2 linked regions of the Homo sapiens genome follow. The protein of the gene in region 1 purifies or fractionates together with the protein of each later gene. This does not show direct contact. Each region holds a gene or a part of one and is shown on either strand. Other genes may lie near its edges.

Region 1 (3,749 bases):
TACTAAGAATACAAATTAGCCAGGTGTGGTGGTGTGCGCCCGTAATCCCAGCTACATGGGAGGCTGAGGCAGGGGAATTGCTTGAACCAGGGAGGTGGAGGTTGCAGTGAGCCAAGATTGCGCCACTGTACTCCAGCCTGGGCAACAGACAGTCCGTCTCAAAAAAAAAAAGGTGGGGGGGGGGGGGATACTGCAGTATTATAAAATGGCTTTAGAACTCTGCACATAACAAAATTGTATGGAAAATAGGGAAGTCTGAATCAGCAATCCCATCACATATGAGGACGGCCATTCCATAGTTTCTAGCCCATAACTGATTTACCATTCCCAATAATGCAAGAGCAACATACCAATCATGCTGCAATGGGTGTTTTTATTATGCAGACAACCGAAAATTCTATTCGCACTATTGCTGGCATCCTTTAACTACTTTAAGACCTTTCTTGAGCGGCAAAACAGTGTGAAATTTAAAACTCAGTAAAGCAATGCTTTTGAGTGGAGCCAATGATTCATCACTCTCCCAGGTGGTCCTGGTTCTCACACAGGTGATGTATATTTTAAAAGAAACATTTTAAGATACCAAAACAGAAGCCCACCCTTTTCACCATGAAAGAATCTTGGTGCTCTGTTGATTAATTACATTAGTAAAAATAACATCGATATTAAGAACTAATGTTAAGCTATGTGCCTCTGGCAAACCTAAAGCAGCTATTTATGCTTCTAGTCTTTTCCTCTGCCTCTCCCTTTTAAACAAATTATCAAAATTTTGTGGCGGGTAAGGGGACAAGAGCAAATCCTACGTTTTCCTTTCAAATCCAACAGTTAAGTCATGGGTAGGGTTATTAAGATACTGCCCTATCAGACTCTACCTTGACTGGTGTGGCATCAACCAATCTGACCATAATGACCATTATATTTGTCCCATAACATAACTGTTCTGCACAGTTAACATATTTATACAAGAGGGATCAGCTGTTGTTGAGGATGTGGCCCAGCGGCATAACTATACTAATAATACCTGGAAATTGGACTTTTAATCTATTTCTCTGAAGAGAGCCTTGTAGGAATGACTCCGTCCTTATTTACAGTGGAATTAAAATTGAGTAAAGTCCATTTCCAATAGCCATTTGATACATGACAATTTCACACTAAATGGCTTATTTAAAAAAGTTCACAGCAATTACAAAAGATAAATCATTAGATGCCTCTGATGTGGGGAAGCAACAAGCCTAACAACCAAGTATGATATTATCACTATGTAATGTTTTTTCAAAATTTTGTATTGTGGACAACTCCCATAGTTGAGGTTTGTCATATTTTCCCTACAAACTGTTATTTGTAAAAACAATGCAGCACTTTTCCTTTATGAAGTTTCTGCAGATTGAGTAATGACTAGGTAAGCAGATGATTAAGGAGGACAACAAAATTCTAAAATGGAGAAACTCTGGCCATTTATTTCAAAGAAAAAAAAATCTGTCATTAAATTCCTAGTTATTGGCTATCCCCTCCTAGAAAGTAGAGGAGGAAGGGCTGGCTACCACAGACGCTGTAAATACACTTTATGTGAAGGTTCATTACTAAGGAGGTTAGAAGAAAGGCTATGTAATTAACTTCAGTTCAGCAAAGTGGGGGTGAATAAAGAGAAAGATAATACACCCTGTGTATTTTGTGGGAAAAGGGGATTATTGAGGACACCTACAAGAGTGGTATGTGACACAGAAGCCTACAATAATCAAAACAGATTTAAAAAGAAATCTTCACCCATAATTAGTATCTTCATAGCTATTAAAAAAATAGGTCATAATTTCATTCTTAGTGCCATTTTTCAATACTACCCTTTTAAGGATTTAAACCACCTGACTTTTTTCTGTGTAATGAAAACAAATGGCACAAAATAAATACAAGTTCATTCTCTGAATACTAATGTCTTATACACATTCATTTACTAATTTTTAATATCTCCATCTTTTCCTCACACACACATACATACATACATAAACACACACACACACACACACCCCTTTTTCAGTCTTTATAATGGAGGGATGTTAAAAATCCCCTCTAGACTGTATTTGGTTTATGCTACAGTACTAATACTCTGAGTTGAAGGAAAATTCTTTATACCAAACAATAACACGTTATTTAAATGTGCTAAATTAATCACAGCTGAAGTTTGTTTAGAAGCTTACACAAAATAATCAGAAAACAGATCAACTCTTAAGATTTTTTTTTAATAAGTGCTCTGTAAGGAATTGTGTGAGGACCTAAGGAGAAAGATTGCAACAAATAGAGTTAAGTGTTACCAAACAGCACAAAGAGATTTGTCCCAAAGTCCTGCTTGTACCTAGGCAATTAAGTCTATTAACCTAATGCCCCCAAAATACTGACAGTTAATATGATGGGGCACTAGGGTTCTCAGAAAGTTAACAGACATTCCTAACTACATACCTCTAACCATATAATCAAGGAAATTTCAGTGGAGAAATCAAAGTGAAATGTTGCATTGTTTCATTTAGAAGTGAGACTCTCAAAAACCTTTGGACAGACAGAGAAGTGATACATTCTTTTTGGCTTCTCTGAACACTGAGGCCTGAGGGATATGGAAGGAAATTAGAAAAGCAATAGCTTTCTAAAGATGTTTAATCAAGTGTTGCTTCTAAGTTAAAAAGCCCAATTCAGGTGGGGTCTGGGTTTGTTTTTTGTTTTTTCCTTTTCAAATATATACTCAATTCAACCTCTGTATGTCACAAACCCAGAAAGTTTCTTGTGAGTTGTGAGACGGAAGAACTTTAAAATTCCAGGCAAGCAAAATGGACATTTAAAAAAGGGGACTAGAGAGGGGAATCTGGCCCTAAGGCGACAAGTGGTTACACAAGGCAATTGAACACACAGCAGAACTTTAAAACCTGTAAAACAAACTGGAGCCTTTTTTCCCTTTAATCAACCTTATATGTCTTTTTTTTTAACTTTTTGAAAATTTTTATTTAAAAAAACACAAAAACACAGACTTTTTTCACTTCAGTTATGTGGTATGTTGCATTTTCCAGTTTGTTCAATGCTTTAAAGCTCAAGGATGCCTCTGCTTTCAATTGTACATGGGCCTGAAGCATCCTAGCTTTTGGCAAGCAGGCAGGAGACTCAACAAAAATCAAAATAGGAACAAGGCAGACTAAATGCAGGGCACATCTGTAAACATATTATACATTTGAAAATTACAATATCAGTCAAAGTGATACAGTTTACAGGTGAAATGAAACTATCTGGAACTGGCCTACCACAAGTTTCTGAACCTGGACTGATACAATAAGTTATTTTATATATATATATATATATTATGTATAAAAAAAAGTTTTGTTTACATCAAGTGGAATTGGCAATCCATGCTTATACTTTTAAAATCTAAGCAGGGCAGAAATCCAGACTAAAAAGATAGTTACTCTACTCTATGTTGAGTCCAACAGCTTCTTTCATGAACTACTTGTTTTAAAAGCCTCAAATAATCAACAAAACAAGAAAACCCATCCATACTACAGTCACTCAAAACTGGACATTTCTAGGGGTAGAGCCAAAGTAGTTACTTTCTCCCCAAATACCCCAGGGGATCCAGTCTACTTTTATCAGAAGACTACAACTCTTTATATAAATGCCCTGATATTTTAACCTGTATTTGACATACATGGATATACTAATTTCTGTGTGTGTGATGTGATGCTGTGTCAGGCCAGACAACTTGTTATTATGTTACTAAC
Region 2 (3,749 bases), on another chromosome or scaffold:
GACTGCATCCCAGGTAGAGCACCAAGGCTTATCTGGGAATGTGAGAAGCACTTAAGACGCTTAAAACCTTTGAGGGAAGAATTCCACAAGGCAGAGTAGGAGTAGGGATGGCGACCCTGGACACCCAGAGAAAAATGAGCAAAAACTATGTTCTACCTGGAAACCTGTCTTCACTTAGTGACCCCATATCACCAACACATCACCTGGAGAGCACCAAGATACTCACGTATAAGAAGAAAGACTGCTATCATAGGTAGTCTTCACACCGTAGTTCTCCTCATTGAACTTGAACATTTCATTGGGGTCCCATCCATTGGACTGGGGAGGGAGGAAGGTGGTTTTAAAACCCAGCAGGAAAAGCAACGACAAGTCACTTCCCTTCCATCAGGTTAAAAACTCCAAGATGTGAACAAATTGGCTGGGCACAGTGGCTGAAACCTGTAATCCCAGTACTTTGGGAAGCTGAGGCAGGAGGCTCTCCTGAGGCCAGGAGTTTAAGGCCAGACTGGGCAACACAGCAAGAGCTCATCTCTAGAAAAAAATAATGAAACAGCCGGGTGTGGTGGTGCATGCCTGGGGTCCTAGCTACTCGCTACTCAGGAGATTGAGGAGAGAGGATCACTTGAGCCCAGGAGTTTGAGGCTGCAGTGAATTATTATGGCACCACTGCGCTCTGGCCTGGGCGACTAGCTGGGCGTGGTGGCTCATGCCTGTAATCCCAGCACTTTGGGAGGTGGGTGGATCACCTGAGGTCAGGAGATCAACCTGACCAACATGGTGAAACCCCGTCTCTACTAAAAATAAAAAATTAGCCATCCGTGGTGGCGCATGCCTGCAGTCCTGGCTGAGGCAGAAGAATCGCTTGAACCTGGGAGGCAGAGGTTGCAGTGAGCTGAGATCGAGCCACTGCACTCCAGCCTCCAGCCTGAGTGACAGAGTGAGACCCTGTCTCCAAAAAAAACAAAAACAAAAACAAAAACAAACAACTACAACAAAAACCCGGGCAACAGAGCAAGCTCGTCTCAAAAATAAACGACAAAACAAGAGTGGAAAAAAAATTGGAACGTGGCTGGCAAAAGTAATCAACTAATAATTGTAATTAATAACTGCAATTTTTTTTTTTTTTTTGGAGACAAAGAGTTTCACTCTTGTTGCCCAGGCTGGAGTGCAATGGTGCGATCTTGGCTCACCGCAACCTCCGTCTCCTTGGGTTCAAGCGATTCTCCTGCCTCAACCTCACGAGTAGCTGGGATTACGGGCATGTGCCACCACGCCCAGCTAATTTTGTATTTTTAGTAGAGATGGGGCTTCTCCACGTTGGTCAGGCTAGTTCCAAACTCCCAACCTCAGGTGATCTGCCCGCCTTGGCCTCCCAAAGTGCTGGGATTACTGGTGTGAGCCACCGCGCCCGGCCTGCAACTGTTAATGATTACTAACAACTGCAGCAGAAATTATCAATAACTAGTAAACCTGAAAAGTCATAAGACCTAACAATTCTATTTCCAAGACATCCCAGAAAAATTCTGGCACATGTGCGTGGGGAATATATGTTCTAAAAGTCCAGCAAGGTACTATTTTTAGTAGCAAAATAATGGCAACCAAATGCAGATGATTAAGGAAAAGGACAAATACAATTTGCTGTGTACACGTGTGTGTGTATATTTGAAAACAGCACACAACAATAGAAGCAAAGAACTAGATCTACGTACAACCATGAGAAGTTCGAAAAGGCAAGAAAAGCAAATTCTTGTACAAACTAAACATAACAAAACAATAATATATTCATTCACAAGACATTTGTTTCTCAACAGATAGTCTCGCTATGATGCCCAGGCTGGAGCACAGTGGCCATTCACAAGTTGAGTCATAGTGCACCAAAGCTTCAAATGATTCTCCTACCTCAGCCTCCTGAGTAGCTGGGACTACAGGTGTGGGACCACCACGCTCAGCTCTATTCATGAGCGGTTTTTATTTATTTTTTTGAGACATCCTCACTGTCGCTCAGACTGGAGTCCAGTGGCACAATCTCAGCTTACAGCAGCCTCAAACTCCTGGGCTCAAGTGATCGGAGCTCCTGCCTTGGCCTCCCAAGTAGCTGGGACTACAGGCATGAGCCACTGCGCTCAGCCTCATGAGATTTTAAATGCCTCAGAGTAGCTGATTTTGGGAAGAGAAATGGGCCTACACATTAATCTATACTTTTTGTTATGTTGAAAAATAACGTGATGCAAATGCTAGGAGTGGTTAATTATAGATAGTAAGAGAGTAAGTTGATGTTTTGGTTTTGTTGCGTGTGACACGGTCCACCCAGGCTGGAGTGCAGTGGTATGATCACAGCTCACTGTAGCCTCGACCTCCCTGGGCTCAAGTGATCCTTCCACTTCAGCCTCCCAAGTAGCTGGGACTACAGGTACATGCCACCAAACCTTGATAGCTTTTATATATCTTGTTGAGACAGGGTTTCACCATGTTGCCCAGACTGGTCTCGAAATCCTTGCCTCAAGTGACCCACCGGCCTTGGCCTCCCAAAGTGCTGGGATTACAAACATGAGCCACTGCACCCAGCTAAGAATAGATATTTTTACTTTGCTATTTTCTATACCTTTCTATTTGTTATCTGACTACCATCAATGGGCAACAGTAAATATTTCCCTCCCCACTCAAATGAACCTCACTGTCAACAACCCATTCTGTCTGTCCAGCTCCCAAGTTCTCAGGGAAGGAGGCTATACCATGTCAGACTCGAGGTCATAGTCGTCGCTGTTGCTGTCACCCCCCTCCCAGCGCTGAAGCACCTTCTCTTTGTGTTCCCCATTCACTTTCGAGTTCATGGCAATGGCTGAATCGGTGAACTTGTCTGTGGGGGCAGAGGTGAAGATCAGGAGTCAGGCTATATTTCACAGACTTCTTTCCAATATCCCCCAACCCCACTCTCCGTAAGTAGTTCAGGAACAAAGTTTAAGAAGTCCAGAGTACGTGTGCCCGTGTGTTAGGATGGCCAGGGGGTGGGGAGGCAAGAGAAGAAGAGTATAAAAAGTCTATCAGTACTATGATTCCAAAGAAAAAAGAAGTTAAAAACCAAGCAAAGAAAATATGAAGAACCACAACACAGACAGGAATTCATCGCATTATATATTAGACATCAAGACATATTTTTAAGAAGAAAAATCCACCCACTTCGCTCAGGAAAAAAAAGGCATTAAAGCAAAACAAACAAACAAAAACAAAAAAACAAACCAAACACATCACCATGTTCCACCTGCACACAAACTACCCTCTGTCCTCTATGCACACAGAGCAGGTCTGAGGTAACAGCCTAGGACAATACCTTTAGTAGCATAGTTGAAGTCAACATTTCGGAAGTGAACAAGCATGACATCACTTGGCTTAAACACCATGGTGTCCACAATGTCCTCCCGACGAGGGCCACCTGCTGGCTCAGATGCTTTCCGGTGCACAGCATCCACGGCTAGTTCAAACTACAAACACCCCATTCCCCACACCCATGGGTCAGTTTCAAGAAAAGTGAAGGCAAAAATAGAACTGGATTTCTCTTAAATAGAACTGGATTTCTCTTACCCTTCCCAAACTTTTCACAACACTACATCCTCAACATGCTTGGAACCAAGTGCATTGTTTTCTCAACATCAGCCACAGGACTTAGCAAAAGTCTCACAAAAATTTAAACTTAAATATTTTAACATTAAAGTACCCAGCCCTCAAATTTGTCTTTTTTCCCTGCAGCACTA

Evidence for each region.
Region 2: the proteins of NUFIP2 (region 1) and ATXN2L purify together in Homo sapiens (affinity purification with mass spectrometry; 5 studies listed by BioGRID and IntAct, with this or other methods). This does not show direct contact.

The regions. Positions count from the first base shown.
Region 1 is NC_000017.11:29,259,416-29,263,164, forward strand, and holds part of NUFIP2 (FMR1-interacting protein NUFIP2), read right to left. Parts: 3' UTR 1-3,749. UniProt on the Homo sapiens protein: Binds RNA.
Region 2 is NC_000016.10:28,825,970-28,829,718, reverse strand, and holds part of ATXN2L (ataxin-2-like protein), read right to left. Parts: intron 3,480-3,749; coding exon 3,329-3,479; intron 2,858-3,328; coding exon 2,733-2,857; intron 319-2,732; coding exon 227-318; intron 1-226. UniProt on the Homo sapiens protein: Involved in the regulation of stress granule and P-body formation.